Linked DNA regions of Homo sapiens: regions 2 and 3 are each linked to region 1. The links come from fine-mapping of genetic effects on gene expression. A gene starts in region 1. Each other region holds a variant in brackets. All regions are shown on one strand. Distances are between the middles of the regions. Region 1 holds the start of ACER3 (alkaline ceramidase 3). Region 2 overlaps ACER3 (alkaline ceramidase 3). Region 3 overlaps ACER3-AS1 (ACER antisense RNA 1).

Region 1 (10,866 bases):
CTGCACTCCAGCCTGGGCGACAGAATGAGACTTCGTCTCAAAAAAGAAAAAAAAAAAAAAAAAGATGCTGGGCAAGGTGGCTCACACCTGTAATCCCAGCACTTTGGGAGGCCAAGGCAGGTGAATCACTGCAGGTCAGGCATTTGAGACCAGCCTGGCCAACATGGTGAAACCCCGTCTCTACTACAAATACAAAAATTAGCTGGGCATGGTGGTGCACTCCTGTAATCCCAGTTATGTGGGTGGCTGAGGCACGAGAATTGCTTGAACCCAGGAGCTGGAGGTTGCAGTGAGCCAAGATTGCGCCACTGCACTCCAGCCTGGGTGACAGAGCGAGATTCCGTCTGGAAAAAAAAAAAAAATGCAATCTGAGGAATTCAGAGAAAGAGAAGGCAAACTTATCAACGTAAATGCATAAAGTAGTTGTGGTGAAAAGGATAAAGATGTCCCAGGAGAAATTATGCTAACAAAAAAAACTTTGCATTAAAGGAACTCTTGGAGAGATTTCACAATCTTAAAAGTGCAAAGGATAAATTTTGGAAGCTGATACAAATTAGAAAAGAATTCATGAAGGGATAGTACTCATCCCGGCTGGGCATGGTGGCTCATGCCTATATTCTCAACACTTTGGGAGGCTGAGGTGGGAGGACTGCTTGAGCTCAGGAGTTTGAGACCAGCTTGGGCAACATGGCAAAACCCTGTCTCTACTAAAAATCCAAAAAAAAAAAAAAAAAATTAGCTGGGCATGGTGGCACACGCCTGTAGTCCCAGCTATGGGGTACTGAGGTGGCAGGATCACTTGAGCCTGGGAGGTCGAGGCTGCAGTGAGCTGTGATTGTGCCACTGCACTCCAGCCTAAGCAACAGAGGGAGACCTTGTCTCAAGAAAAATCCAAAAACCTGTTGGCCCTCATTAGTGTAGCTGTAGCTGGCTAAAAAAAAAAAAAAAAAAAAATTAATTTAAAAGAAAAAAGACAACTGGGCATGGAAGTTCACGCCTGTAATCCCAGCACTTTGGGAGGCTGAACAGGTGGATCACTTGAGGTCAGGAGTTCGAGACCAGCCTGGCCAAAATGGTGAAACCCCGTCTCCACTAAAAATACAAAAATTAGCCAGGCGTGGTGGCATGCGCCTGTAATCCCAGCTACTTGGGAGGCTGAGGCAGGAGAACTGCTTGAACCCAGGGGGTGGAGGTTGCAGTGAGCCGAGATCGCGACACTGCATTCCAGCCTAGGCAACAGAGCGAGACTCTACCTCAAAAAAAAAAAAAAAAAAAAATACCCATTCCATATTATGAGTTATGTGACAAAAAGGCAAGCACTGTTTTAATTACTCTTGATAAGTGATTTTTATAAACAAAATAGTTTATTTCTCAATGTTTTTAATGTTTTAAAGTATACTAAATAAATATGCTTACTTTTTTCATTTCCCTACATATTCATAACCAACAGTAAGAGAGTTTACAATGTTTGACAAAAAGTTTTAAAGATCACAGAACAATCATAACTTTTCCCATTGATTATTAACATAGTGTTACCTGGTTTTAACTTGCACAGTCATTTGTGTGGTCCCACACTATGATGCAAAGCAAGGACTGCCTGTACCTCTAACTTCTGGCAGGTCAAGGGGCTTATTATTTCACAATGAGAGACCTTTTCCTCTGGTCTTTACAATATGCTCAAACAAAAGGAATTTAAACTGATCTTGGCTGATGCTAGGAAGACAGTTTTCGGGTGCTGAAAGTGACTGAGAACTACTGCCATATCTGAATATGCAATTCCCCAAACACTTCATTATTCCCTAAAATACATATATTCTAATGCTGAAAGATAGTTGAAAGATGGTTGAGTAAACTGAATAGTTGTTCAATTTGTCCTGTGTGATAGCATAGTATTTCATATCTGTCTTCCTTTCTTGAATATAGGGGCAAAACAATGAATGTGTGATAGAAGTAATGATGGAGAGGTAACATGGATAGTAGCTTTAGAGTCAGACTTCAATGTGAACACTATCTCTACATCACTTACTGTAATCTTAGGTAAATTATTTCTTAGAACTTCAATCTCCTTATCTTTGAAATGGGGATAATAATACCTTCTTTTTGAAATTACTGTAAAGATCAAAAGAGATAAGATATATGAAGTGCTTAGCAAAGTGTAGTACAAGTGACCACTTAGATAATAGCTATTATTACATTATCCTTAATATTACCATCAATACTATTGTTAATGTAAATACTATCGTGATGTTAATATTGCACTTGCTTTAAACACATATTTTAAACATATTATTATTAATCAGCATATTTTTCAAAGATCAAATTATCTTAGTCCAAGATATATTACTGTAGATACTCATGACTTGCTATGGTAAGATGACTTGACCTCAACTTCCTCCAGATGATTTTCTCCCAAGGTGCATGCGCAAAGGGCTGCAAACATTCACTCATCCTCTTCTTGCAACCCCTCTGATTCCTATGTCAAAACCCTCCCTGCAGTCTGCTCAGAGTTTCCTCTTCTGAGCACATTGAGAACAAATGTCATTTCCCATTTCTCAGAGCTATCTGCCAGAACACAGTATCTTGCTCTCTCAGAGTCCACATGACTTACCGCCAGTTTTCTCTCTTTGCATTTTTTATATTTTTTTTGTAGAAATAGGGTCTAACTCTTGCCCAGGCTGGAGTGCAGTGGCATAATTACAGCTCACAGCAACCTTGAACTCCTGGGCTCAAGTGATCTTCCCACCTCAGTCTCCTAAGTAGCTGGGACTACAGGCACAAACCACCATGCATATCTAATTTTTTTTATTTTTTATGGAGACAGGGTCTCACTATGTTGCCCAGGCTGGACTCAAACTCCTGGCCTCAAGCAGTCCTCCTGCCTTGGCCTCCCAAAGTGCTGGGATTACAGGCATGGGCCACGATGCCCAGCCCAGTTTTTTCTTGGTTCTAAACTAAGAGTCATTATTACCTACATAGACCCATAAAGCTGCAACTAAGGCCAGCCCCTTTTCTCTATTAAATAATTTTTTCCTTCGAAAATATTGAGTTCATTGAACAATGTCTGATTTAACACTTTCAGTGACAGAAAGTCCTCTGTCCCCCAAGTCAACCTTTCCCATATCATTGGTGAGAAGGTTTTTCCTTATATTGAAGCAAACTTTTCCCCATTACAGTTAGTTTCTGCCCATATGCCCTAATTCCAGATTCCAAATAAATTAAAAAAAAATTATTCTATATGATAGCCCATCCAATATTTGAAGACTCTTGAATTCCTCTTTTCCATGTTACACATTTCCAGCGCAGAGTGCATGGTTTTACATCTCTTTCCTCGTGGTCATGGTTCTCTGGACCAGGCATGGGCTTGCCAAAGTGATCTAACAACAAACTGGTAAAGCGCTTCCTTTGCCAACATGTGGGTTCCCAAGTAATTGTATTACAAATGATCCCTTTGCCAATATTTCTCCATGATTATGTAAAAATTATTAATTTAATAGTTGAAGAAAAGTGACTCTTAGCCTAAATCATGGTCATAAGAGAATAGTACTAAAGTCCTGAAAACTGCAAAAAGTGTTCTTTTTTTTTTTTTTTGAAACTTAGCCAATTACCAGAACAGAATAAAGTGGGACCATTTGTCATGATATGCTTGCCTCTTTCCTACAAAGCCATGCACAGATGCCTGAGAACAGGACTCAACAATGAGAAGGTTAGCTAAGAAGAGTTTCACTTCACGTCCTGAGAAGTAGATCCAACTAAAAGAAGGCAGTAATCATTAGCCAAAGGATAGTCTTTGCACTTTGCCAGAAGCAGGTACCTAAAAGAAGGATCAAATATTGTGCTCTCAAAACCTGATTAAATGATAGAAAAAGAAGTGGCAGATTTCTCCTAGCCTGGCAGGAAAAATCGTCTAGGAAAACAGACAGACACCCACATAGGCACACAGAACAAGCCCAACCTGACCAGCAGTGCCTGACAGAGCAGCCGCTAAAGAAGAATGCTTAAATCCTCAGAAGGTGCAGTCGGTGGAAGTAGTGTCCTCAGATGACCCCTAACTCCTAGATAGTTGGATAGGACAGAATGGAGCAGGGACTTGGTCCTCTGTGCTCTTGGGAGCCTGGCAGGGGCAGAAGGTACAGGCTAGGTGCAAGATGCCTTCGACTCCTGGTGCAAGATGACAGTTGAATAATCATACTCAGAGAGCAGATGACCTCTGGTACTTGAAGACATCCTGGGGGATAGGGGTGGGATGGTTCAGATCTCAGACTAGTGAAACTGTTCCCTGGAGGTGAGCAAGGAGGTCTAATATTCCAGTGAAAAGGGAAGGGAAAGACGGTAGAATTCTCACGGATTGGGGGAAAGACGAAGCTAGGAACTGTACCCTTCTGGTGGTGGCAACAGCAGAGCAGGTGTCCTGGGCCCTCATTCCAAGGGGCAGGGTCCTCCACTCTCCCAGCCTGGCCCCACTCCGCTCTCGGGCAGGAATTCCCATTCCCAACCCGGCTCTTCAGGCTTTCCCCCTTAGGTCCAGCAGGGGCTCCCCACTTCCCACTGCTCTTCTGCCCCCCCAATCCTCAGGCCCCCTTCCTCCCTCCCAGACCCCGGTACTCCTCCCTCTACACACTGGACTCCCGGCCCGCTCCTCTCAGCCTCCCGCTGGCCCAGGGCGCCGCATTCCAGCTCCCGGGGCCAGGCCTGGCACCTCCCTTCGCGGCCAGGTTCGCTCTTTGCCTTCCTCACACGGCGTCTCCTCAGCCCGGTGCCCTCTCGCCCCCACTCCCCTCCTCAGGCCACACTCACAGAACTCGGCGATGTACCAGGTCACGGAGTAGTTCTCCTCGCACCAGTCCAGCGTGGAGGTCGTGGGGCCCCAGTAGCCCTCTCGGTCCGCGGCCGGAGCCATCACGCCGCCGCCGCCGCCGCCCAGGCGCTCCGCTCACTGTGCCGGGTTAGGCTGGCGACCAGGCCGGCTCCGGCCCAGCCCGCGCGCTCGCTCGCGCCCCGCCCGGCCCTGCCTCCCCGAGGGGCGGGGCCTGGCGCCGTTACTGACACTGCCCTGACGGAGGCCCCGCCCACCGGCGCCGCTGGGCCGCGGGGCCGGGCCAGGCCCGACCTGGTGTAAGGCCCACTCGGAGGGCGCCGGCTGGCCCCGCCCCTCTTCACCCTTGGGCGGGGCAGGGGCGTGATCCAGGAAGGAGCCGGGGGCCTGGGCTTCCTGGCCGGTGCAGACACGCCAATGGCCGTAGGTTGGGGGTTCCTGACATCCCAGAGGCTATATTCTGTCAGGATGTGCCAGAGCCTCTATTTGTGTGCGTGTGGTTTGATTTAATCGGGGCGGGGGTGGGATGAATACTTCTATCAAGCCCTTGCTTGATTAAACCTGTGCGGCGAAGCGCCTCTATGTCTTCCATTGAGCCACAGGCCTCAAATGGAGCCCCAAAACAGAGTACCCCCAACCAATCCCCGTGATTCTCAGGAAATAAACCGTGATTTTCTGATAAAGGTGTAAGTGTCTCTTCGGTACAAAGGGAAAGGGTGAACAACCCAGGACCGAAAAAAAAAAAGTAGGTTCTGAGATCCTAAAAAAAAAGAATGCTGCTAGCTAGAGCACTAAAGCAAAGTTTCCCTGCTTCGTTTGGGCCTCCAAGCACAGAGGTTTCCACGTTCTAACTATAATTGTGCCCTGCTCTTCAGGCAACCAACAGCCTACCCCTACTTCCAACTTCAAGTCTAATACTCCCAGCCCCCGTCTGGGAGTATCGTAGACGGCAAAACCCCGTGTCTACGAAAAATACAAAAATTAGCTGGGCGCGGTGGCTCAGACGTGTGGTCCCAGCTACTTGAGAAGCTGAGGTGGGAGGATCACTTGAGCCCCCGCGGTGGAGATTGCATGCAGTGAGCTGAGACTGTGCCAATCCAGCCTGGGAGAACAGAGCGAGACCCTGTCTCTAAATAAATAAATAAATAAATAAATAAATAAATAAATAAAAAGTCTAGTACTCCACAGGTCTGCCAGAGAGCTCTTCCTAAAACAGATGCAACCACCCTTGCCCCTAGTGTTCAGCTACACCAAACTCAAACTTTCCCCTCTCCTAGAATGCGCTGGGTCACCTGCCTTTGCTCCCACAGTTCAACTGGGACAGCCTAACTCTCTTCTCCGTTTGACCAACTCCCCACTCTTCTTTTAAAATCCAGCTCTCTGAAGCCATCCCAGATGTTTACACCCTAGAGCTTCCTTGCCCTTTGTTCACATCCTACTGTGCTACATCCTGATCAGAGACCTTGCTTTCCCTTCTTTATGGTCTTAGTATTAGGACTCTGCCTGAATACACAGTAAGAAATGAAGAGTAAAAATGAAGGATGATACAACTGCTATTTTCTAAATAAATAAGTCAGATGTGGTGCAAGTCAAAGGTAAAAGAGAGGACAAGGAGAGATGAAGAGCCCACAGCCTTTCTACAAAATAACCATAGCCAATTAGCAGGAAATAGATGCAGAACTTTTATTTGCTAGGTGCAAAACCTAGGGAAGCAGTGTATCTTTTTTTTTTTTTTTTTTTTTTTTTGAGACAGTCTTGCTCTGTCGGCCAGGCTGGAATGCACTGGCATGATCTCAGCTCACCGCAACTTCCGCCCCCTGGGTTTAAGCGATTCTCCTGTCTCAGCCTCCAGAGTAGCTGGGACTACAGGTGTGCACCACCACGCCCAGCTAATTTTTGTATTTTTAGTAGAGACAGGGTTTCACCTTGTTGGCCAGGCTGGCCTCGATCTCTTGACCTCGTGATTCACCCGCCTCGGCCTCCCAAAGTGCTGGGATTACAGGCGTGAGCCATCGCACCCGGCCGGAAGCAGTGTATTTTAATACGAATAGTAGCCTCTCTGAAATTTTTCTTTTTTGAGACAGAATCTCGATCTGTCGCCCAGGCTGGAGTGCAGTGGTGCCATCTTGGCTCGCTGCAACTTCTGCCTTCCGGGAATCGTGCCTCAGTACCCCCTCATCCCCATAGCTGGGATTACAGGAGGCTGCCACCACACCTGGCTAATTTTTGTATTTTTAATAGAGACGAGATTTCACCATGTTGGCCAGGCCAGTCTTGAACTCCTGACCTTGAGTGATCCACCCTCCTTGGCCTCCGAAAGTCCTGGGATTACAGGCCTGAGTTACACCCTGCCTGGCCTGAAATTTTTATTTTGAATGTCATTGAGCTTCTACTATATACCAGGCCCTGTTTGGCTGCCTGGGTGCTAGGACCACACAGAGGTAAACATGAAAGATCCAAGAAGGCCGTCTCCAGAGAGATAAAAGCCATTGAGGTGTGGGGAAACATCTATTTCTAGTCACTTTATCTCATATTCTAAAACTTCCGTTTTGTTTATGTGTTTATGTAATAATCATGAGCATATATAATTTATAAATGAATGAAATATTTATATATTTATATGCTCAAAATGAATATGCAAAAACTCATACGCAAAAGTGATTTGCCGATGAGGTGTGCAATCAGAACAGTGCAGAGACCACAACAATAGAGTATGATCATTCTTAGCTAGGAGTAAAAAAAAAATTAGGGTGTTGTGGAACCCCCTATGTGAAAATAACCCCTGACCCAGCCAAGTGACTCAAGGCAGGATGAGGCCTTGGCTGAGTCAATACTCTGCACAATGTTCCTCAATAGTGAAAAAGGAAATCTACCGTGACCAGGACGGATTTTAGGAGAGAGAAATTCCCCCATCCGAGAGAAAAGGTGCATTGCAGAAGTTTCACTCAGAAAACACAAAATGAATTTCACAGTTCCTTCAGCAATATCTACCTTCCTTTTTCTTTTTTTCTAAAAAATTTCCCCCCTTGAGCATAAAAGCAATGCCTGGAAATGTAAGGGACCCAGACAAGTCAAAACTATCTCAAAAAAGAAGAACAAAGCTGGAGGACTTATACTTCCTGATTTCAACACTTACTGTAAAACTATAGTAATGAAGACAGTGCAGTACTGGCATGAAGATAGACATGTAGATCAAAGGAATCGAATTGAGAGTCCAGCAATAAACCCTTACATTTATGGTCAATTGATTTTTAACAAGGATGCCAAGACAATTCAATAGGGATTGAATAGTCTTTCAACAAATGGTGCTGGGACAACTGGATATCCACATGCAAAAGAATGAAATTAGAATGCTTCCTGTTACAATAAACAAAATTCAACTCAAAATAGATCATAGACCTAAATGTAAGAGCCAAAACTATACAATTCTTAGAAGTTTACATAAAAATAAATATTTGTAACCTTGGGTAGGCAATGGTTTCTTATATAAAACACCAAAAACACAAGCGACAAAGGGAAAAATAGATAAATTGGACTTCATCAAAATTAAAAACTCCTTTGCTGAAAATGATACCATCAAGAAAGTGAAAAGACAACCCACAGAATGAAAGAAATTATTTGCAAATCATATATCTTATATGAGACTTGTGTCCAGAATATATAAAGAACTTGTAATTCAATAATTAGAAGACAAGTAACTCCCAATAACCCTATTAAAGAATGAGTAAAGGATCTGAATAGACATTTCTCCAAGGAAGATATACAAATGATCAATAAAAACATGAAAAGATGTTCAACATAGCCGGGCGCTGTGGCTCAAGCCTGTAATCCCAGCACTTTGGGAGGCCGAGGCAGGCGGATCATGAGGTCAGGAGATCGAGACCATCCTGGCTAACACAGTGAAACCCCGTCTCTACTAAAAACACAAAAAATTCGCCGGGCGTGGTGGTGGGCACCTGTAGTCCCAGCTACTCGGGAGGCTGAGGCAGGAGAATGGCGTGAACCCAGGAGGCGGAGCTTGCAGTGAGCCGAGATTGCACTGCTGCACTCCAGCCTGGGCGACAGAGCAAGACTACGTCACAAAAAAAAAAACAAAAGAAAAGGAAAAAGAAAAGATGTTCAACATAATTAGCCATTAGAAAAATGCAAATCAAAACCACAGTGAGATGCCGCTTCAGACAACCTAGGATGGCTATAATCAAAAAGACAAATAACAACAAATGTTGGCAAGCATGTGGAGAAAGTGGAACCCTCAAACATCGCTGGTATGTAAAATGGTGCAGCAGCTTTGAGAACTTTTTCAGTTCCTCAGAATGCTAAATGGAGTTATCATATGACCTAAGCAGTTTTACTCCTAGGTATACACCAAGAGAATTAAAAACATATATCCACCAAAAACTTGTACAAGAATGATCATAGCAGTATTATTCACAGTAGCCAAAAAGTGGAAACACACCAAATGTCCATCAACTGATGAATAGATTAATAAGTGTGATATACACATTCAATGAAATATTATTCTGCAATAAAAAGAAATGAAATGAAATACTGGTGCATGCTACAACATGGATGAACCTTGAAAATTTTATGCCATATCAAAGAAGCCAGACACCAAGGGGCACATATTGTGATTCCATTTATAATATATGGAACATCTAGAATAGGCAAATCTGAAGAGATAGAAAGTAAATCAGTGGTTGTCTAAGGCTGAGAAAGGGAGCAGGAACAGGAGGTGACTGTTAATGGGAATAGGGTAAGTTTGGGGGATGATGAAAGTGTTCTAAAATTAGATTGTGGTGATAGTTACACAACTCTGTGGACATGCCCAAAAAAAAAACCCACTGAAGTGTATACTTTAAATGGCCAATATGTATGGTGTGTAAATTACATCTTAAAACTTTTTATTTTATTTTATTTTATTTTATTTTATTTTATTTTATTTTGAGATGGAGTTTTATTCTTTTTGCTGAGGCTGGAGTGCAATGGTATGATCTCGGCTCACTGCAACCTCTGCTTCCTGGGTTTAAGTGATTCTCTGCTTCAGCCTCCTGAGTAGCTGAGATTACAGGTGTGCACCACCACGCCTGGCTAATTTTGTATTTTTAGCAGAGACCAGGTTTCACCATGTAGGCCAGGCTGGTCTTGAACTCCTGACCTCAGGTGATCTGCCCACTTCGGCCTCCCAAAGTGCTGAGATTGCAGGCATAAGCCATTGCACCCGGCCAAAACTTTTGTTTAAAGCAATACATTCTTAAGTTGAAAAATTTAGAAAATACCAAAAAAAAAAAAGTATAAAAAAAGAAATCACTTACAATCCCACCAACTAGCAATGTCCATTGTCAACACTTAAGTACATTTTCTTCCGTTATTTTATCTAATGATTTGTTTACATGATGGAGCTATTTTTATCTTTATATTTCATATTCTTTCATAAGCATTTCTCATGCTATTAAAAATACTCATAAATATCACTTTAATAGTTACATTAGGGAGGGTGCAGTGGATCATGCCTATAATCCCAGCACTTTGGGAGGCCAAACTGGGAGGATCTCTTGAGCTCAAGAGTTCAACACCAGCCTGGGCAACATAGCCAAACCCTGCCTCTACAAAAAATTTTAAAAATTAGCTGGGTGTGTTGGTGTGTGCCTGTAGTCCCAGCTACTCAGAAGGCTGGGACGAGAGGGTGCCTGAGCCCAGGAGTTTGAAGTTACAGTGACATATTATGCACCACTCCACTCCAGCCTGGGCAACAGTGAGTCCCTGTTTCTAAAAAAAAAAAAAAAAGAAGTTACATCATATCCAATTTTATAAATAAATCACAATTTACTTAATTATGATATATTACTATTCCCTTACTACTGGGTATTTAGGTTATTTCCAATGCCAATATTTATTTTCGACTAACAACCCAAATTTTGAAAGCTTTCAACTAGATTCCTACTGAAAATTCTTTTTATCAGTTTTCAATATGACAAAAGAAATCCAAGCTATAATTAATTTTTCCATATGAGATATGTTGTACCATTTCACAACTGCAAAGGAAAATTTGAAAC
Region 2 (10,866 bases), 100 kb before region 1:
CGTTAGTTGATGTAGTTTCTTCCTAGCCTTGATGGTCTTTACAATTTGGCATGTTTTTGCAGTGGCTGGTACCGGTTGTTCCTTTCCATGTTTAGTGCTTCCTTCAGGAGCTCTTTTAGGGCAGGGCTGGTGGTGACAAAATCTCTCAGCATTTGCTTGTCTGTAAAGGATTTTATTTCTCCTTCACTTATGAAGCTTAGTTTGGCTGGATATGAAATTCTGTGTTGAAAATTCTTTCCTTTAAGAATGTTGAATATTGGCCCCCACTCTCTTCTGGCTTGTAGAGTTTCTGCTGAGAGATCAGCTGTTAGTCTGATGGGCTTCCCTTTGTGGGTAACCCTACCTTTCTGTCTGGCTGCCCTTAACATTTTTTCCTTCATTTCAGCTTTCGTGAATCTGAGAGTTATGTGTCTTGGAGTTGCTCCTCTCGAGGAGTATCTTTGTGGCATTCTTTGTATTTCCTGAATTTGAATGTTGGCCTGCCTTGCTAGATTGGGGAAGTTCTCCTGGATAATATCCTGCAGAGTGTTTTCCAACTTGGTTCCATTCTCCCTGTCACTTTCAGGTACAACAATCAGACGTAGATTTGGTCTTTTCACAGTCCCATATTTCTTGGAGGCTTTGTTCGTTTCTTTTTATTCTTTTTTCTCTAAACTTCTCTTCTGGCTTCATTTCATTCATTTCGTCTTCCATCACTGATAGCCTTTCTTCCAGTTGATCGCATCAGCTACTGAGGCTTGTGCATTCGTCACGTAGTTCTCGTGCCGTGGTTTTCAGCTCCATCAGGTCCTTTAAGGACCTCTCTGCATTGGTTATTCTAGTTAGCCATTCATCTTATTTTTTTTCAAGGTTTTTAACTTCTTTGCCATTGGTTCGAACTTCCTCCTTTAGCTTGGAGTAGTTTAATCTTCTGAAGCCTTCTTCTCTCAACTTGTCAAAGTCATTCTCCGTCCAGCTTTGTTCCATTGCTGGTGAGGAGCTGCATTCCTTTGGAGGAGGACAGGCGCTCTGATTTTTAGTTTCCAGTTTTTCTGCTCTGTTTTTTCCCATCTTCATGGTTTTATCTACCTTTGGTCTTTGATGATGGTGACGTACAGATGGGTTTTTGGTGTGGATGTCCTTTCTGTTTGTTAGTTGTCCTTCTAACAGTCAGGACCCTCAGCTGCAGGTCTGTTGGAGTTTGCTGGAGGTCCACTTCAGACCCTGTTTGCCTGGGTATCAGCAGTGGTGGCTGCAGAACAGAGGATATTGGTGAACCGCAAATGCTGCTGCCTCATCATTCCTCTGGAAGTTTTGTCTCAGAAGAGTACCCAGCCGTGTGAGGTGTCAGTCCACCCCTACTGGGGGGTGCCTCCCAGTTAGGCTACTCGGGGGTCAGGGACCCACTTGAGGAGGCAGTCTGCCCGTTCTCAGATCTCAAGCTTCATGCTGGGAGAACCACTACTCTCTTCAAAGCTGTCAGACAGGGACATTTAAGTCTGCAGAGGTTACTGCTGCCTTTTGTTTGTCTGTTCCCTGCCCCCAGAGGTGGAGCCTATAGAGGCAGGCAGGCCTCCTTGAGCTGTGGTGGGCTTCATCCAGTTCGAGCTTCCCGGCCGCTTTGTTTACCTACTCAAGCCTCGGCAATGGCAGGCGCCCCTCCCCCAGCCTCACTGCTGCCTTGCAATTTGATCTCAGACTGCTGTGCTAGCAGTGAGAGAGGCTCCGTGGGCGTAGGACCCTCCGAGCCAGGTGCGGGATATAATCTCCTGGTGTGCGGTTTGTTAAGCCCATTGGGAAAGTGCAGTATTAGGGTGGGAGTGACCTGATTTTCCAGGTGCCATCGGTCACCCCTTTCTTTGACTAGGAAAGGGAATTCCCTGACCCCTTGCACTTCCTGGGTGAGGCGATGCCTCGCCCTGCTTTGGCTCACGCACATGCACTGCACCCACTGACCTGCACCCAATGTCCGGCACTCCCCAGTGAGATGAACCCGGTACCTCAGTTGGAAATGCAGAAGTCACCCGTCTTCTGTGTCGCTAACGCCGAGAGTTGTAGACTGGAGCTGTTCCTATTTGGCCATCTTGGCTACTTGACCAGGTTTCTTTTCTTAACGCAGCATAATGTGGCTTACTTTTCAACCTGACTTTGGTATAGCATCACATGACAAGGAAATCAAAGGACCTCTTGAGACTCTATTGTCCTGAGATAGGAATAATACAGGGTGGAGAAGAAATTCCAGGCAGCAATTTCACATGACTTAGAGTCTTTGGGCTGGTAAGATCCTGAAAAACAGGGTGTGGACCAAGCTGGCTAAGACCGATTGGATCCAGCATGTCACTGGATTTGACCGAGGTTTCACCTAGGACCTCATTATATGCTCATTAACATACTAAACCACAAACCCAGCAGCACCATTGAAATAGGTCAGGGTCACTGGTCTCGTTGTCTAATGTGTTATCCGAGCTTGTGGTCTCAAGAAAATTAAGGAGTGTGGACCCAAAGAATGAGGTTGGAGGAAAAGTTTAATAAGCAAAAGAAGAAAAGCTGAATTGAAAAGCTTTCACAAGAAACTGCTCTCATGTCTGTAAGTGTTTGAGAAACTTATCTATGCATAACTTCCCTTTATGTAGTTGTGGGTATGTCTCTAGGTAAGCATAAAGTGAAACTTTTTGTTTGTATAATTGTGGTTTTGTTTAAAGTAAGCCCCCCTCCTCCCTCTGCAAGTTTCCATGGGGCCCACTGTGTACATGTCTGAAAAGGGGAGGAAACTTCCTGGGAGCTCGCTAATCATACAAAGAGCAAAAGGCTTCTATGCTGGACTTTTCCTGCCTTGCCTGCTTATCTGTGGCTTATCTGTGCAGGTGCACTGTAGCTGCGATTTTTCAGGCAGGCAGCTTCTACAGTCTGAGTTTTTCTCCAAGCTGCTCTATCTTGCCTGTAGCTGTGATTTTTCAGGCAGGCAGCTTTTCCAAGGACCAGCCTTAACCGTTTACCTAACTAATTTTTCCTTTTCTTCTCCCTCACTATGACAGTTCCAGGAACACCTATTGGGTGGCACCACAGTTCTGATAAATCTCTACCTTTTTCCAGGAATTTTCATGAATATTCCATTCCTTGGTTAGAGAAACACATAAAGGTAGCAGCCCCAAACCCCACTGCATGACACTCTCTCAAGTACACCTGCACTCCCTTGAGTGTGTACTTTTACTCTTTGCAATAAATTTCTTTACTTTCATTATTTTTCGACTTGTCCTTGAATTCATTCTTGTGATGGTGCCAAGAGCCTAGACATTGGCTAGGATAGAGGTCCACTGCTGTTTGGGGACTTCCCCCAGCCCACCAGTATCACACCATGCCATGGTCACTAATATTGGCTCAGAATAAACCTTTAAAAAATACTTGACAGGCCAGGCACAGTGGCTCACGCCTGTATTCCCAGCACTTTGGGAGGCCAGGTGGGTGGATCATCTGAGGTCAAGAGTTCAAGACCAGCCTGGCCAATGTGGTGAAACCCCGTCTCTACTAAAAATACAAAAATTAGCGAGGCATGGTGGCGGGTGCTTATAACCCCAGCTACTCAGGAGGCTGAGGCAGGAGAATCGCTTGAACCTGGGAGGCAGAGGTTGCAGTGAGCCGAGATCACACTACATTCCAGTGTCACTCTGGGCGACAGAGTGAGACTCCATCTCAAAAAAAAAAAAAAAAAATTAGCTGGGCATGGTGGTGCACGCCTGTAACCCCAGCTACTCGGGAGGCTGAGGCAGGAGAATCACTTGAACCTGGGAGGCAGAGGTTGCCGTGAGCCAAGATTACACCACTGCATGCCAGCCTAAGTGACAAGGGTGAAACTCCATCTCAAAAAATAATAATAATAAAAATTAAAAATAATAAAATAAAGATATTTGACAGGGTTTAGTTTTTCCATTAACACATATAATTTTGATTTGTCCCATTAGTGATGATTAGGTTGCTTGATTAAGGTGTTTCCCACTTGGCTTCTCCACTGTAAAGGTATTCTTTCTCCCCTTTTTAAGTATTTTGTGGAAAGGTACTTTGAAACTATGTAAATATACTCTTTAACATCAAACTTTTTCTTTATTCATTTATTTATACTCATGTATTATTTCATTTAATACATCATTTATTATCTAGTATGGACTCAGATTTCCCATATTACTCATCGGGTTACATTATAACTATTATAACCCATTACCATTTATTTTGATGCTCAAATTGCCCCATATTTGGCCAGCAGGAACCTCTTCAAGTTGGCTTCAGTGTCCTTTTGACATATTCCCATAATTTTTTGAGCCTTTCCATTTTTTCTGGCATAAAAAGATGATCTAGGCTGATATTGTCCTTTTTTTTTTTTCTGCCCCAGCCCTTGGAATCAGCCCTGGTTCCTTTTAAAGAAGAATGATTTTTAGAAAACAAGATCTGGATGCTAGGTATATTCTTTGGCTTTGAAGTTCCCCATTCCCAGATCCTCTCATGGACAGAGCTTGAGAATGTATGTATATATATGTGTATTAAAATATTTAAGTATGTATACATATACACAAAATACATACATATGCATATCACATATTTTCACATCTATATTTATGTCTATTATATATGTATGTATTGAACATAGGAGTCTGCACTGTTAACTCCAATTTCAGTTTGTCACCACAGAGCTCATTCTAGTTTTCATCTTTTCCGTATTTGCGACTTTTGTTCTCTAACAGTAAGAAACCTGGCTCCCATTCTCCTTAATGTATTTATTTATTTGATTAATTACCCTGTATGCAACATGGCTTCCATTGCTACCTCTCCTTTTCCCAAGCAATGCCCTTCTCACTCAATTCAGGCTCCAACACTTGGTGCTGGGCTGCTGCTGCACCTCCACTTAGACAGCCTCTCGACTCTGCTTGTGCTCTCAGATCCTGCACTGGGCCACTCTGCCATGTAGAAGTCACTCTCACCTTCCCAGGGTACCAAAACATGGCACAAAGCTGTCCCCACTATGTGGCACTCTCTCCATCCCACTCAGATTCCAACCGCATGTCAAATGACCCCCCCAACTTGGGAGGACACCCTTCTTATTCTGCACTGAGCTGTCCCCTTTGCATGGATACCTTTTCAACCCTGGTCTCTAATACACTGTCCCTGGGCTGCCTTGATGTGCAAATACCCTCCTCACTCCTAGTTAGGCTCTGACACCCTACACTGGACTATCCCCCTATGTTGACACTCTCTTTAACTGGCTGAGGTCCCAGAGTTCTGTGATGGATGGTCCCCACCCCATGTGGCTATCCTATAAGCCACACTCAGGTTTTGACACTCCAATGTGGCTACTGAGCACTTGAAATAAGCCTAATCTGAACTAAAAATATATTGCAGGTATAATAACCAGATTTAAGAATATGAAATACTTTATTCATAATTTTTTATATTGATTATATATAGAGAGAGAAGTAGTATTTTAGATATACTGGGTTAAATAAAATTTATTATGATTATTATTATTATTTGAGACAGAGTCTTGCTCTGTCGCCAGGCTGGAGTGCAGTGGCGTGATCTTGGCTTACTGCGATCTCCGCCTCCCAGGCTCAAGAGATTCTCCTGTCTCAGCTTCCCGGGTAGCTGGGATTACAGGTGCACACCACCACACCCAGCTAATTTTTGTATTTTTAGTAGAGACGGGGTTTCCACATGTTGGCCAGGATGGTCTCAATCTCCTGACCTCGTGATCCACCCACCTCCGCCTCTCAAAGTGCTGGGATTACAGGCATGAGCCACCGCGCCCAGCCAAATAAAATATATTATTATTTTCACCCATTTCTGTGTACTTTTTTTCAATGTAGCTACTAGAAAAATTTAAATTACAAATGTAGCTCAGATTTTACTTGTACTACTGTTCTAGAAGTTTCTGGATTAGTGATGGGAAATCAAGAGATCAAAAGACTGAGGACTTGACATATATGCCCTCCTCAGAGTAAGGATGGAAACTAAAAATCCTTGGCTAGCTCTGCAGGGGTGTCCAATCTTTTGGCTTCCCTGAGCCACACATAAAATTAACACTAACGGCCGGGTGCGGTGGCTCATGCTTGTAATCTCAGCATTTTGGGAGGCTGAGGCAGGCGGATCACCTGAGGTCAGGAGTTCGAGACCAGCCTGGCCAACATGTTGAAACCCCGTCTCTACTAAAAATATAAAAAATTAGCCGGGCTTGGTGGTGGGTGCCTGTAGTCCTAGCTACTTGGGAGGCTGAGGCAGGAGAATTGCTTGAACCTGGGAGGCAGAGGTTGCAGTGAGCCAAGATTGCACCACTGCACTCCAGCCTGGGCAATAAGAGCAAAACTTTGACTCAAAAAAATGAAAAATAAAAATAAAAATAAATTGCAAAAAAAAACCTTATAATGTTTTAAGAAAGTTTATGAATTTGTATTGGGCTGCATTCAAAGCCATCCTGGGTCACATGC[G/A]GCCCACAGGTTGGACAAGCTTGCTTTAAAGTCTTGCTACATAGAGGGACTCAGACTATTCAAATGGATGCCATACAGCCATGAAAGAATGCAGGTATCTCAGAATAAGAATATATTGTTCTGGTGAACTGATTATGTCTTTTTAAGATGTCCCCATGTGACTCTGCTCTCTAATGCTGCTCTCAATTTTATATGCCCGCACAGAGATGGTCAAAAAGCCCTATACTATTTGTACTTGTTTTCCTTATGGACTCACCTGCTTATTTCTTTACTTCACTTAGTCAGTTTGGATCCTCAGACTTGAAGTAAAAAACTCCAGAGATTACAAATCCCATCTTTTAGCCATAGTTATGTGCTCTTTTCTCAAATCTGAAGTACTTCTGAATTAAGAGAAATAAGCATTTGTCAATTTCATCATTACTAACCTGCATTTCATATTTCAGAGTCATGTGGAAGCACCAGGATCCCATTCCTACCACTGAAATTAAACAAATGAAAAAAAATTAGCATGAAATTCTTTGTGCGTGGACAGTGACCTGAGAAGACAATAAGACATTTCAAAGCATTGAGTTAAGGATAATGAAGTTTATAAAATCTAGTGGCAAGATATAGCTGACTCTTGAGTAAGTGCTATAATTGGTGAAATTTTGGTGTAGAAAAGAAGTACAATATAAGTTCTCCTAAATTCCCTCTACTAAGTGACTTACTAGACTAACAATATTCCATTATTTCTGTAAAATGTATTATCTGATGCTCAGGATAAGTTTTAATGCACATAGCTGGTTAGCTACTCCTTTGCACTTCTGACCCAAATGGCTAAGGTGTATGCTTACTAAGAGCCAGTCAGTTTGTTCCTGAACTTGTTGATGCCATTGTATTTGGTTATCAGAGCTATGACTGCAAAAAGAGTTGTTGCTTCTCCAAGAACTATTTAAAATGCTTAAAGTAGACTTAATAAAAATGAGTTGCTGGCCGGACACAGTGGCTCGCGCCTGTAATCCCAGCACTTTGGGAGGTTGAGGTGGGTGGACCATCTAAGGTCAGGAGTTCAAGACCAGCCTGGCCAACATGGTGAAACCCCGTCTCTACTAAAAATACAAAAATTAGCTGGTCATGGTGGCAGGCCCCCGTAATACCAGCTACTCGGGAGGCTGAGGCAAGAGAATCGTTTGAACCCAGAAGAAGGAGGTTGCAGTGAGCTGAGACTGTGCCACTGCACTCCAGCCCGGGCAACAAGAGCAAAACTCTGTCTCAAAAAAAAAAAAAAAAAAAAGTTGCTAATAAAAATCATGTTGAATTAGGTGTGGTTGGATATCTGTTACAGACTGGGAAAAATAGTAAAAATCTAAAAAGATTCTGTAGGCAGGGCACAGTGGCTCAGGCTTGTAATCCCAGCACTTTGGGAGGCTAAGGCCAGAGGATCGCTTGAACTCAGAAGTTCAAGACCAGCCTGGGCAACATAGTGAGACCTTATCTCTATTAATACATAAGATAATAATAATAAAATTAAAAAATAAAAAGATTCTGTGTTCATGTCCTAAGTTCTTCCCAAGTGCCTCCATTTTAAATAAACTATTTTCATTTTAGCGTTTTATAAAATGTTTGGTTTTTAAAGCAAAGAGTAAGTAGAACTAAAATTAGGGTCTCTCATTCAATGGTCATGCCCTATGTTAAGTAATTGTCAAAGATTATATACAACAAAAATAAAACTTCAGGCCCAGCCCGGTGGCTCACACCTGTAATCCCAGCACTTTGGAGGCTGAGGCAGACAGATCACCTGAGGTCAGGAGTTCGAGATCAGCCTGGTCAACATGGTGAAACCCCATCTCTACTAAAAATATAAAAATTAGCCAGACATGGTGATACACACCTGTAGTCCCAGCTACTTGGGAGGCTGAGGCAGAAGGATCGCGTAAACCTGGGAAATGGAGGTTGCAGTGAGCCGAGATTGTGCCACTGCACTTCAGCCTCGGCGACAGAGTGAGACTCCATCTCAAAAATGAAAAAACACACACACAAAAAGTTAAAAATTAAACTTCATGTATATATGTATTCAATAATTCTGTGCTTCAATATATCAAAGGTTTAATATCCAAAATTTAAAAAATTCTATGCTTCAACTTAAAAAAATTAACTGATCAAGTATCAGCCCTTATAACATCTAATAAAGCTTTTTTTTCTGATTCAGTTTAGTTCAGAATTTACTGAGTGCATCCTATTTGCCAAATTCAGTTATAGATGCTGAGGTACAAAGATAAGATCCAGTCATTGGCCTTAATGAAACATATAGTCTAATGGAAGAGACAGGCAGATAAACAGAAGGTGCCTGCACATGGACATATGCGTTGAGTACCACAGAAGCACAGAGAAGGAACACTTGTGAAGGAAATCCAAGAATGCAAGAATGATGGTACAGATTAAACTTAAGGATACATAGGACTTAGCCCAACAAATGTAGTGAGTAGGGGCGTCATTAAATAATTTGTATGAAGCCACCTGAGAAAAATTTCAAACTATATGTTATTCTTGCCTTTAAAAAAATCACTAGATTGTAATTTTTACTCCTCAAAATGAAAGGAGGGAAATAAGATAGTTATTGCACTCATCTCATTAGAGAAATAAGGAAGTGGGGTGGTTCGTGCCTTTTTTCCCAAAAAAGTAATTAGAAGGTACAAAGGTGGATAAATTATTCAATGTAAAGGAAAAAAAAAACCTTTAAGTTATTTAAAGTCACACAATAACAATATACTATGAAGTAAAAAAAAAAAAAAAGTGAGATGGGATGATTGTTCATCTTGGTAGAATGGCCACTTTATCATGCCTTACTCAAGGACTGTTTTTATCAAAACCTTTTCAAAGTGTTCTCTTGATACTGTTAAATTATATAGCATTAAAAGTCTGATTTTTTTCCCTGCTTTTGCTCACAGAGCCATTAAACATCTGACTTTTTAGAGATCTCTACAGTTTATTTCCTTTCAACAATCTGGGTAACACATAAAAAAGTATTCTGATGAAAATCTATTCTGGTGGCTACTCAGAGGTTTCAAATTCCTTTCAGGAGAGGGTAGCACTAGGTTTACTCCTCTTTTTTCTTTGTTATTTTCCTTTCTTTTAAAAAGTGCTCTCCTGCAACTGACATTTCTAGACATTTAGAGTCCAAAAACATGTAATAGAACAGCATTCTCTATGCAATATTTTGTATTTTGCCCCTTTAAAGCAAACCACCAAGTTTTGCTGTTTATCAGGTTTCTTGAGATATAATTCACATAAAATCAATCCAAAGTATACAATTCAATTGTTTTCAGTATATTCAGAGGTGTGCAAACATCACCTCAACCTAATTTTAGAACATTTTCATCACCCCTAAAAGAAAGCCTATACCCATTAGCAGTCATTTTCCATTTTCTCTCAACCCCTCCAGCCCTGGGCAATCATTAGTCTACTTTGTCTGTACAGATTTGCCTGCTGGGGACATTACATCTAAGTGGAATCATACATCATGTAGTCTTTTATGTCTAGCTTCTCTTCCTTAAGCATAATGTTTCCAAGGTTCATTTATGTCATCACATGCATCAGTGATTCATCCTTTTTATGGACGAATAATAATATTCCATTATATGAACATACCATATTTTACTTATCCATTCATCAGGTGATGGACATTGCTATGTACTGAATGTTTCTATGCCTGCCTCCCCAACTCCCCAGTTCATATGTTGAAGCTCTAGCCCCTAATGTGATGGTATCTGGAGGTGAGACCTTTGGGAGTTAATTAGGTTTGGATGAGGTCATATGGGCGTGGCATCCCCAGGATGGCATTAGTGCCCTTATAAGAGTAAGACACTGAAGCTTGCTTCTTCTCTTTCCACAGCACAGACAGAGGAAAGGCCATGTGAGACACAGCAAGAAAGTGACCATCTGCAAGCCAGGAAGGAGACGTTTTTTGGTTTTGGTTCCTCACCAGGAACCAAATTAAATGCCACCTTGATCTTGGACTTCCAAGCCTCCAGAACTGTGAGAAATAAATGTATGTTGCTTAAGCCACCCAGTCTATGGTATTTTGTTACGGCAGCCTGAGCTAAAAAAGACATTTAGGTTGTTTCTACATTTTCACTATTATGAACATATTGTATTTCACATATTGTATATGTGAACACTCATATACAAGTTTTTATGTGGACATATGTTTTTATTTCATTCATTCATATATACTTTGGAGTGAGATTTCTGGGTCACATGGTTTAGTATTTTGAGGAAGTGTTTTTTGGAGTGTCTGTACCATCTTACATTCCTATCAGCAATATACTAATTTCTCCACATCTTGCCAATATTTATCACTGGCTGTCTTTGTGATTACAGCCATCCTAATGGATGTGAAGTGGTATTTCATTATCATTTTGATTAGTATTTCCTTAAC
Region 3 (10,866 bases), 170 kb before region 1:
GCACCTTAAACTTTGCCAGCCTCTGCTGGCCCTGATCCCTTGTCTCTCAGGACACAGCTCAAATACCACCTCCTCCAGCTCACCTCACGGTAAGTCCAGGTCAACATAACCTGTCTCCTTGTTGATGTCATGGCTGTTGAGTAGCAAGTTTGGTAAAGAGGACAAATCTGCCACTTACTCCATCCCTTTGAACCTCAGGTTCCTTGTTTGTGAGACTTTGGGCAACTCCTTTATCTCAGTGTCTCAGAATTATATGAGTTAATTCATGTAAGGCATTCAGAGCCATGCCTGGCATGTAGTAGGCACCAGAATAACATTAGCAGTTGGCTAACACAGGAGACCATCTTTTTATGGATGAAGTCTAGCCTTCTCACACAGTATGGTATAAAGTTCCTCTTTATAAGCTTTATAAAGTTCCTCTGTGATCCTCTAACTGCAGGCATTTCTCACTCTGTTTATTGCCCCACACATATTAACACATCCATTTATTGCTTGCCTTTGCAATGCTATTCACTCTGCCTAGAATTCCCCTTTCTTTTTCTTTTTCTCGACTCAGTGCAACCTCAGGCTCCCGGGTTCAAGTGATTCTCCTGCCTCAGCCTCTCTAGTAGCTGGGATTACAGGCGTCCACCCCCATGCCCAGGTAATTTTTATATTTTTAGTAGAGATGAGGTTTTACCATGTTTGCGAGGCTGGTCTCGAACTCCTGACCTCAGGTGAGCCACCCGCCATGGCCTCCCAAAGTGCTGGGATTACAGGCATGAGCCATCTCGCCTGGCCAGGAATTGTCCCTCTTCTTTTCCCAGGAACTACTTTGGTCATTCCCTCCTCTGGTTTGATGCTGAGATAGCTAGCTGGAACACAGATTCCTGGGCCACCCACCCATTCCATACTATCCCAGGGTATTCCTGGAGGAATATTCGTATAGCAGAATATTCATATAGCAGAAAAGGCAAAGAAACCTTTTATTAGCTATTAGGGCCTTGGCCCCAACCCCCAGCATGAATCCCTGAGCCCTGGGGTCTGCACTGGACCTGTGCAATAGGGGCAATTCTGTCCTCATTCCTCTCCCCTTGGCCTCCCCCTGTTTCTTGCTTGGCACTCTGATTAGAGGGGAATGCGAAGAAGGAAAAATGTACCTCCTTCCCAATAGGAAGAAGCCCAGGCCCCCAGCTTACCTGCAGTCTCTGAGAGAGAAGAAATAGACAGGAGCCATCCCCAGCCTGAGACTAGCCTTTAATCCCTTTACTTCACACACTGAGGTTCCACGCAGGCCTGTGGTTCAGTTCTCTTGAATCTGACCAATCCATGACATCACCCCTCCTCCTTAGGGGTAAGGTGAAGAGGGGGAGGGCAGCTACAGGCTTCCTTAGCCACCAGTGACTGCCTGCTTCCTCTTTAAGCTCAAATGTCCTTAGAGTGTGGGTCCAGTGAATATCCTTGGAGGAGATTCTCTACTAAAAATATAAAAATTAGCTGAGCATGGTGGTGGGTGCCTGTAATCCCAGCTACTCGGGAGGCTGAGGCAGGAGAATCACTGGAATCCAGGTGCAGTATCGTACCTGTGCTCCTGGAGAAGGTGCATCTTGTCTGTAAAGACAGTGTGTGATGACGGCCCTCATGTGGAGGCCCCCTGCAAGTTGCCTGGAAAAGTGTATTGTGTGCCTTCAGAGGCAGAGGCAAACTGCCTGAAGGGCTGTGGAAATAGGCACAGAAATAACAGGTTGGCCGCATCTGTAAGAGTAAAGTATTTATTGTTGTTGATTGAATAAAATCAGTTTAATTTTAATATTAGGTATGGGGCCCTAATGGATGGGATCACAATGTTAAGTTGTAGTGATCCATCACAGGGTACCATATATACACATTTATATATTTAAAATAGAGATAAAATCTATATTACATTTATATATTAAAATATATAAATATATTCAAAAATATAAATCTATATTAAAATGTATATACATAAATATATATATATATATTTCCAGATTTGAGCATAGGCAAAATTGGGCTGCTAAATGGAGAAGTAGTAGGGGATAATCACCCTTTTTAAAACTAAGGTTTTTTATAATGAGTTTTAATCCTTGAAGGGCCTGCTTCTACTTACATTGGGCCATATTAACTATAAAATGGGGGCTCATGGGGTCCCATTTTATCAAGCCAATGACAAAGAGACACTTTAATTTATTATTATTATTAATATTGAAACAGGGTCTTACTGTGTCTCCCAGGCTGGAGTGCAGGGGCACTATCAGGGCTCACTGCAGCCTCAGTCTCCTGGGCTCAGGTGATCCTCCCATCTTAGCCTCCCGAGTAGCTGGGACTATAGGCACACATCATCACACATGGTTAATTTTTGTATTTTTTGTTGAGATGGGGTTTTGCCATTTTGCCCCGGTTGGTCTTGAACTCCTGGGCTCAAGAGATCTTCCTGCCTTGGTCTCCCTAAGTGCTGGGATTACAGGCATGAGCCACCATGCCCAATCTAATTTATTATTTATTTTGTCAAAGCATCTATGTCCAATAGAAAACATTTTATAGCAGTGGGTATATGAGCATGGGAAATTTAGGCAAGGCTACACTTAAATTGAGGCATACGCATTTAAAAACTGTTATATGTCGTTACCCTCTCAAGATTATAGGGTCAGAGTGTGTAAATTAGTGGGATCCCCAGGTATAATTATATTTTGACCCCCAATATTAAGTTCATGAATTTTTGACAATTAGTACATTTTCACAAATGTTAAGTTAGAACCTATGTTGTAGAGGCGCAAAAACCAATCAGTGCTGTTTTTAATCTTTTTGTTACACAACTTCTTTAGTATATAAATTAGGAATCTTGAATTTCCAATTAAATCAAATTGTGGAAAATATAGCATATATTCAGCTTGCCATATATATATATATGTATGTATGTATGTATATATATATATGTATGTATGTATGTATATATATATATGTATGTATGTATGTGTATATATATATATATATATATATATATATATATATATATGTATGTATGTATATTTATTTATTTATTTATTTGAGACGGAGTCTTGCTCTGTCACCCAGGCTGGAGTGCAGTGGCTTGATCTTGGCTCACTGCAACTTCCGCCTCCTGGGTTCAAGCCATTCTCCTGCCTCAGCCTCCTGAGTAGCTGGGATTACAAGCATGTACCACCACACCCAGCTAATATTTTTGTATTTTTAGCAGAGATGGGGTTTCTCCATGTTGGCCAGGCCAGTCTCAATCTCATGACCTCAGGTGATCCACCCACCTCAGCCTCCCAAAGTGTTGGGATTACAGGTGTGAGCCCCCACACCCAGCCTATTTATTATATTTATTTTAAAATATGTATATAATTTATTTACATACATTATTTTATATGTAGTTTATATTTAAATTATATACATTTATTTATATATAATTTATACATACCTTTTATTTTCCTCTGTATCTAGGGGTTTGTTCATAAATCAATAAGTAATCTAAGGCTAGCATTATGTTTCCTAGATTTGGTGTTTGCTCAGTACCTAAAGTTTAAAGTTCTAGGCTGGTCATGGTGGCTCACACCTATAATCCCAGCACTTTAGGAAGCTCAAGTGGGTGAATTGCTTGAGCCCAGTAGTTTGCAACCAGCCTGGGCAACATAGTAAAACCTCTTCTCTACCAAAAAAAAAAAAAAAAAAAAAAAAAATCAGTCAGGTGTTGTGATGCACACCTGCAGTCCCAGCTATTTGGGAGGCTGAGGTGGGAGGGTTGCTTGATTCTGGAAGATTGAGGCTGCAGTGAGCCACGATAGCACCACTGCACTCCGGCCTGGTCAACAGAGTTAAATAAATAAATAAATAAATAAATAAATAAATAAATAAGGTTTCTCTGCTTTTCTTGGAGTTGTAGCTGCCTAAAGCATTAGTCTCTCTTGTTTGATTTTTGTTGTTGTTGTTTTTGAGGCTTTTAGCCAGCAGAAGCTGTGGGTGTTAATTTCAGCCTCTGGTTGATAAGAGGAAGGAGGAAAGGGACCCACTGTCTCTAGGAAGGAGGCGCTCTCTGGGATGGCCCCGACTGCCAAATAACCAGTCCATTTTTTCTCCTTTTAAGTAAAAATTTTAGAATGGCTAGCATTTCTAGGTATCTAAATAGGAAGATCTCTCTCTCTCTCTCTCTTCTCTCTCTCTTTCTCAATGTTTGCCTGACAAACTCTTGGTGGTATCAAGTAGCCCCCTATTGTTTTGACCTTACAAATTGTTACTGGAAAAACTTTGGGAGTGACCTCCAGCATACTGGATTCACAGGCAGCTGCTTCTCTTTCCAGGGTGCCCTAATTGACATCTGAGGGGTCGGGATGGGGACCAGGAGCGACCACAGCAAGGAATGCAGCAAAGGAGG[T/C]GCTGGCGGCAGCAGCCCTGACTCTTGGGAGGCGCTGTGGGACTCCGGTGAAGTGACTCCACCAGCGGCTAGGGCTGGACAGTTAGATCCTTTCCCCTGTCTCCACTCACTGACACAGAGAGCCCAATGTCGGATCACCCCTTTCTGACTGTTACTCGGGAGGAATGCTGCTGTCCTAGAGCGTGATAGCTCATGTCTCTCAGTAGTGAGATGGAGGTAGAGCTACACTGTCCTGGCTGCCTCACTCTGGCTGGACACCAGGACTTCGTCATTTATAGCCGATACAGTCCTGACCACTACTAAGACCCCAGGTCACAGGGACAGCATGCCTGGCTCAAGGGGCAACACACCCCCAAAGAGTGGTCAACTGTTTAGGATCCTCGTAATCTCAGGAAGGGAGGCTGAGGTGGAAGGGAAACACACCTTCCTTGCCATGGAACCTGCTGGAGACAGTAGCTACCTTAACGGTAATAGAGAAACGTGAATAGTTTCATTCCAAACAGCATCCTCATAGCTTGGTGACTTAGTGGACATTCTGTGAGAATGTTCATCTCTCATCTCTCAGGCTCCTCGTCCCTCTTACTAATTTACCTGGGGGAGGTGCCTGGATGAGAAGAATGAAGGGGGAAAGAGGTGGGAGGAAGAGAGAGAGAAGGGGAGGGACCGAGTGCAGGTTTCTGATGGGGATGGTGAGATACAGCTAGAGGATTAGGAAAGCCCTAAGACTCACAGGCAACTTCATGGTGGGAGAAGGACTAAATAAGGAGCTGGGGGTACTAATTAAATCTGAGAACAAATGAGGGCAAGAGAGCAGCCCCAGGGAGGGACATGACCACTTTCCTCCCTGTCTGTGCCCCACTCATGAGAGTCCAGAGCAGGTGGACTGAATGACTAAATGAATTTTGTTAACTTTTCTTCAAGCCCCCTAAAAACTTATCTTTTCTCCTTGGCAGATACATCTTTCGGGAAATTTGGGAAAGATTTGAAGTGGAGAGAAAGTTAAATGGGGGTAAGATTATTGGAATAAAATGAACAGACTTTAAGACAAACAGCTCTGACCTCTCCAGGAGGTTTCTGGAATGGCCAGGGAGGAACTTAGTGAGACATATGTAGTGGGTGTGAGTGCCAAGGGTGGCTTTGGAAAGGTATGTGCTGTTCAGAGACGGAATTAACGCACTTCTGACGCCTTTTCAGCCTTCCCGTTTACAATGGGTGGGTGTTTTAATCAGCAGAAAAAGTCTCAGTCCAGTGCATGTTCTGCCACACCCTAGTCTGAAAAACAGGGGCGGGATAAGGCAGAAAAACCCATCTCCACCTCGAAGGCAAACAGGTTCTGTGAGCACAGGCCAGCACCTGATGACCAGGAAGGGGAGAAGGCCGGATAGTCCCTTGTTCCAGGTTGCACTGGTCAGTGAGAGAGGGAAGAGGGGTTGACTCCTCTCGTCTGTCCAGTTTTGAGGTACCCCTACAAGCCCAGGCCAAGCAATCTTATAGGAAAGATACCATTCAGAAACTGTTATGATTAGATTCATACTACACCGTGGTGCTAACCCCTAAGACAATCCTGCATTTAACAGATATAGAACCCAAAATTTAGTTGTGACTTGGCCACAACAACACAGCTTTTCAGTGGAGGACCAGGATCCTAAGCTAGGTCTTCAGATGCCCCAAAAGGAGATAACTTTTCTAACAGTAAGTACCCTCTCAGGGTTAATGCCAGTGGGCTCCAGCTTGGAGCCTGCTGTTTCAATGCAGTGTCTTGTGAGAGTTATTGCCTTCTACCCCTCAGCCATGTAGCTCTCTCTGCTGACAGCCACTGTGCCTCCAGCCCAGCCATGGACATCCAGACTTTGAGGAACTAGAACCCAGGCCTTCAAATAGGCTTCCTTTCCAAGTGTCTGGTGATTCTCTTTGGTTTGAGATGCTCTGTCTTTAAAAATTCCTCTACCTAATCCTTAAATGGTTTGGTTTCTAGGACTCAGTCTGAGACCCTCTAGGACTCAGTCTGAGACCCTCTTTTCTTCCCTGATCTCATCCATTTCCATTTCAATTAATATGTGTGTCCATGATTCTTTTTTTTTTTTTTTTTTTGAGATGGAGTCTTGCTCTGTTGCCCAAGCTGGAGTACAGTGGCATGATAGCTCACTGCAACCTCCACCTCTGGGGTTCAAGCGATTCTCCTTCCTCAGCCTCCCGAGTAGCTGGGATTATAGGCGCGTGCCACCATGCCTGGCTAATTTTTGTATTTTTTTTTTAGTAGAGACGGGGTTTCGCCATGTTGGTCAGGCTGGTCTCGAACTCCTGACCTCGTGATCCACCCACCTTGGCCTCTCAAAGTGCCGGGATTGCAGGCGTGAGCCACCGTGCCCGGACCCATCATTCTTAAATTTACATCTTCAGCCCAGATCTCTCAGCTGAGCTCCAGATCGACATTTATTATCTTTAAGCTCTCTGCCAGGATGTCTCACACAGTCTACAAACTCTGCAAATCCCAAGTGTACTCTATAATACCCTAAACCTTCTTCCCATGTACCTCTGATATATTGGAGTTCGTATCTCCACTGCCACTATCCACCATTCTTCCTCTATCTAGTATCCCTACATCCATACTGGCTCCCTTTAATCCATCCTCCATCTTTTCCAGAGCTTTCCAAATTCAAATTCTTTTTTTTTCTTTCAAAGGTGATGTTTCTATTGTCCAGGCTGGAGTGCAGTTGATTTAAGCTCACTGCAGCCTGGAACTCCTGGATTCAAGCGATCCTCCCACCTCAGCCTCCTGAGTAGCTGGAACTACAGGTGAGTGCCACCACACCTGGCTACTTAAATTTTTTTTGTAGAGATGGGGTCTCGTTGTGTTGCCCAGGCTGGTCTTGAACTCCTGGCCTCAAGCAGTCCTCCCACCTTGGTCTTCCAAAGTGTTGGGATTACAGGCATGAGCCACCGCACCAGGACAACCAAATTCAAATTTGTAAGATGGCTTTCAAAGCCCTATGTGATGTCATTCCAGTCCATCTCTCCAGAAACTCACCTCTGGCTCCCTGTGCTGTAAAGGGCCTTTCCCCTACTTTCCTTAATACCTCTCGTTCTTCAGTTCTTGGTGTAGATATTCATCTTCAGGGATGTCTTCCCTACTCCAGCTCCCTCGTATTCCCTCCGAGAACTCTCTATACCCTTCCTCATGACACTCATCCCAAATGTAATTGGCAAAATTACTTTTGAGACACTAAGTGCCATGAGGGCAGGTATCTGTCTTATTTTTCATTGTACTCCTAGCACCTAAAACAGACCTTCCAGTTTATTGAATGGATGGCACATAGTAGGGCTCAATAAATGGATCCCCCCATTTTCTGCTTTCTCATTTCCTTTGAGAATCAAGCCTTACTTTGGGACTAGGCCACCCTGTCAAGTGAGACAGGTCGTGTTTTCTCTGTCACCTAAGAAGACCCACTTGAGTTAGACTGCATTCCAGTCCAGGGCGAAAGAAAGAAAAAAAGAGCTGAAAAGGCCACCCCAGAACTGCACTAGAGAGAAGCCCAGAGTAAGTTCATAAAATTTGCTAAATCAAATGACAGATGCCTTTCTTAGGCGGGTGTGTACTGTTCAGGGTGAAATAAAGCCATCCAAACTCCTTTTCAGCCATTCCCTTCACAAAGCACAGCCCAAATGGCTTTGCACACTCATGTCTGTGTTTTGTCAGGTAAAGATTCCTGTTTCGCCTCTTGCTAGCATCCATCTGTTCATCCAGGCAAGGCTGCCCCACCCTGACACACAAAGGAGGGACTAGCTGAAGAATCAACCATATGGTCAGCAATGACTAAAACCACCCATTCCAGCAGGCTTGGCTAAGAAAGCTAATATTTGAAAAGCTGTGGTTTGAGGAACTAGGTGAGTTATGGGAAATTCTAATTTGTTTTATATCTTGTAGATGGTACTTCAGTTAAAAGTTATAAACCACAGACACACATGGCTTATGCAGGACCATTTTTTCTGTTCCTGATCTGTCCCTCTTCATTGTGTGAAGCTGGATGGTTCGTGTTTACTTCACAGCTCCTAAAGTTGAAGATACTGAGTATTTAAAGATATAAATGTTTAATTAAAAAATTATTAGCTTTTAACCTTGTAACATACTCAGGTTTGGAGTAGAAAGGTACTGCAGTACAGTGTTAGGAGCCCAGTGACAAAGAATTCCCAGGATAATGACTGGATGTCATTTCCATGAAGAGGCTTGCTGCTGGCCTATACTGCCAGCTTAAGCAAACTGGGAAAAGATGTGTCCTCTGAGATGTAACCCTATCTTTGGCAGGCTGAGCACAGGCTAGATTTCAGCCTCTCATTCACCCTCCTTCCTCTCTCAACTGGGTGCCTTTGTGTAGTACGTAAACTCTATAATTACACACGGTAGCCCTGCCTTTATATGAATGTATAGATTTTAAAAATATAAATCAGGGATGAAACACTACCAGTAGTCTTATTCAAAACAATATTATTTAATTTAATATTTTCACCTATGAGAGGTAATGAATGCAGAAATATAGTCTCCATTATAGCAGACAGGAAAAAATACATTATCCTACTATTTTCTAGAAAAATGATTGTGGCATTAGCAAATCAAATGGAAAAAGTGAATAAGCAGACTGAGATTACCTGAAAATAGTTAGTTGCTAGTAAGATTCAGTACAATGTATGTTTATTAAATAATCGCTACTAGAACAAACATCTGCGACAACTATGAAGTTAGGAAATGCTGTATTAGCTTGAACAGTTTATCTGTTGGTCACATTAATAAGTGACTCAGAAATATTACAAGTATGGAAAGGCATGATAGTGAACAATGCCACATGAGTCCATTAAGCAAAAATAGATAATGGCCCCTATATCTTAGAACAGACTCACTTATTCATTGGTATGAATAATTTAGCTCTAAAAAGAAAAATCCAAAAGAAGCGAAGACTAACTGTGGAAAGGACTTTGAACTTTTCCTTTTAGAAAGTTAAAAAAAAGAAAAAAAGTGTACATGACTACCACAGCTTGACAACTACCATGTGGCACATTTTATATGACATGAGAAAAAATGGTCAAAAGATCTCAACTTTCTGGAAGTCAACTCAAAAGCTGAGGGCAACTAGCATTTTTGGATTTTACAGTATAGAATGGAATTCCCTTTATATTGAAAACTAAATCATGGACCTTGCTCATAGTAATTTTTCTCAAAGGTTTAGGCACTTTGCAACAGGCTATTGCCAATCTAGAAAAACTGACGTGAAAAAATAATTAGGTCATGTAAATATTAAATACAAATCATGTGATTACATTCAAAGACATGAGATGTCTTAAATGAATAACATATTTTCATTCTGACAAGTGCACACTAGAATCACCTTGCAGAGAAGTGCAGTTGGGCAGTACCACTGTACTGTACCACTGTACCACTTGCTGACAGTCTAGAGCAGGGGAGACAAACTCCCAAGCCAGAGAGTAAACATTTTAGGCTTTGCAGGCTACATACAGTTTCTGTTGCATATTCTTCTTTCTCTAAACGTTTTTAAAATGTAAAAACCAGCTGGGCACGGTAGCTCACGCCTGTAATTCCAGGACTTTGGGAGGCCAAGGCAGGTGAATCACTTGAGGTCAGGAGTTCAAGACCAGCCTGGCCAACCCAGCTCTACTAAAAATACAAAAATCAGCCAGGCATGGTGGCATGGTGGCATGTGCCTGTAGTCCCAGCTACTCGGGAGGCTGAGGCAGGAGAATCGCTTGAACCTTGGGAGGCGGAGGTTGCAATGAGTTGAGATCCTGCCACTGCACTCCAGCGTGGGTGACAGAGAGAGACTCTGTCTCAAAAAAATAAATAAATATATATATATATATATAAAGAATAAAATAAAATAAAATAACCATTCTTACCTTGCAGGCCATACAACGCAGCCTGAATTTGGCCCATGGGTTGTAGTTTACCAACCCCTGATCTAGACCCCTTTGATATTATGACACATTTTTATCATTTTCTTTTAGGCACAGATGATCTCTGAATGAATGCTTATAGGGAACCATATGTATATGCTTAAAGATTTCTCTAATAAATATGGTTGCTGCAACTTTAGAGTTAATTCTGCAAATTCAATTTAAAAGTGATGATTACAGATCTGGCATTGCCAGATGTTTCAGAAGCTTTATGACAATTTTGTGAATATTTAAGTTACCAATGACTAAATTCAGTTCAAGTATCAACACTACATTTTTAAAGCAATGAAGCAGGTCTTGTAAGGGTTGAAAAGGAACTGTATGCAGAGCAGTGACCTGTGGCTGATGCTATACTGACTGATGGCTGCTGAGCTAGAGTAGGGGAATTTTAGGTCACTTGCAGCCTGTAACTGAATTTCTTGATTTGCATTTTAGGGTTTTCTATTTAAAAAAAAATTCTTGTGACCAGTCTTCTACACTAGCTGCCTTTGAAATCAGGTAGTAATTAGCTG

Evidence for each region. PIP is the estimated chance that this variant, and not a neighbour inherited with it, causes the effect. A credible set is the group of variants that fine-mapping cannot tell apart.
Region 2: its variant is the best candidate, but not a certain one, in a credible set for the expression of ACER3 in whole blood (INTERVAL, PIP 0.86).
Region 3: its variant is the best candidate, but not a certain one, in a credible set for the expression of ACER3 in whole blood (INTERVAL, PIP 0.70).

The regions. Positions count from the first base shown.
Region 1 is chr11:76,855,008-76,865,873 of GRCh38, reverse strand. It overlaps ACER3 (alkaline ceramidase 3), which reads right to left and starts at 4,956. Exons shown (of 11, transcript NM_018367.7): 1 at 4,795-4,956. The coding sequence starts at 4,897. RefSeq lists silencers at 4,884-5,143, 5,184-5,283.
Region 2 is chr11:76,955,040-76,965,905 of GRCh38, reverse strand. ACER3 (alkaline ceramidase 3) reads right to left here. Exons shown (of 11, transcript NM_018367.7): 3 at 6,875-6,927. ACER3-AS1 (ACER antisense RNA 1) reads left to right here. Exons shown (of 3, transcript XR_007062792.1): 2 at 6,893-7,072; 3 at 10,321-10,360. Among named protein-coding and RNA genes, the nearest start is that of B3GNT6, 74 kb to the left of the region's middle. RefSeq lists an enhancer at 1,305-2,504 and a silencer at 2,726-2,785. The variant G/A (reference allele first, on the strand shown) is at 6,450.
Region 3 is chr11:77,024,791-77,035,656 of GRCh38, reverse strand. It overlaps ACER3-AS1 (ACER antisense RNA 1), which reads left to right. Exons shown (of 3, transcript XR_007062792.1): 1 at 1-89. ACER3 (alkaline ceramidase 3) reads right to left here. Exons shown (of 11, transcript NM_018367.7): 11 at 8,860-10,866. B3GNT6 (UDP-GlcNAc:betaGal beta-1,3-N-acetylglucosaminyltransferase 6) reads right to left here and starts at 1,259. Exons shown (of 2, transcript NM_138706.5): 1 at 1,179-1,259. RefSeq lists a silencer at 10,668-10,717. The variant T/C (reference allele first, on the strand shown) is at 4,394.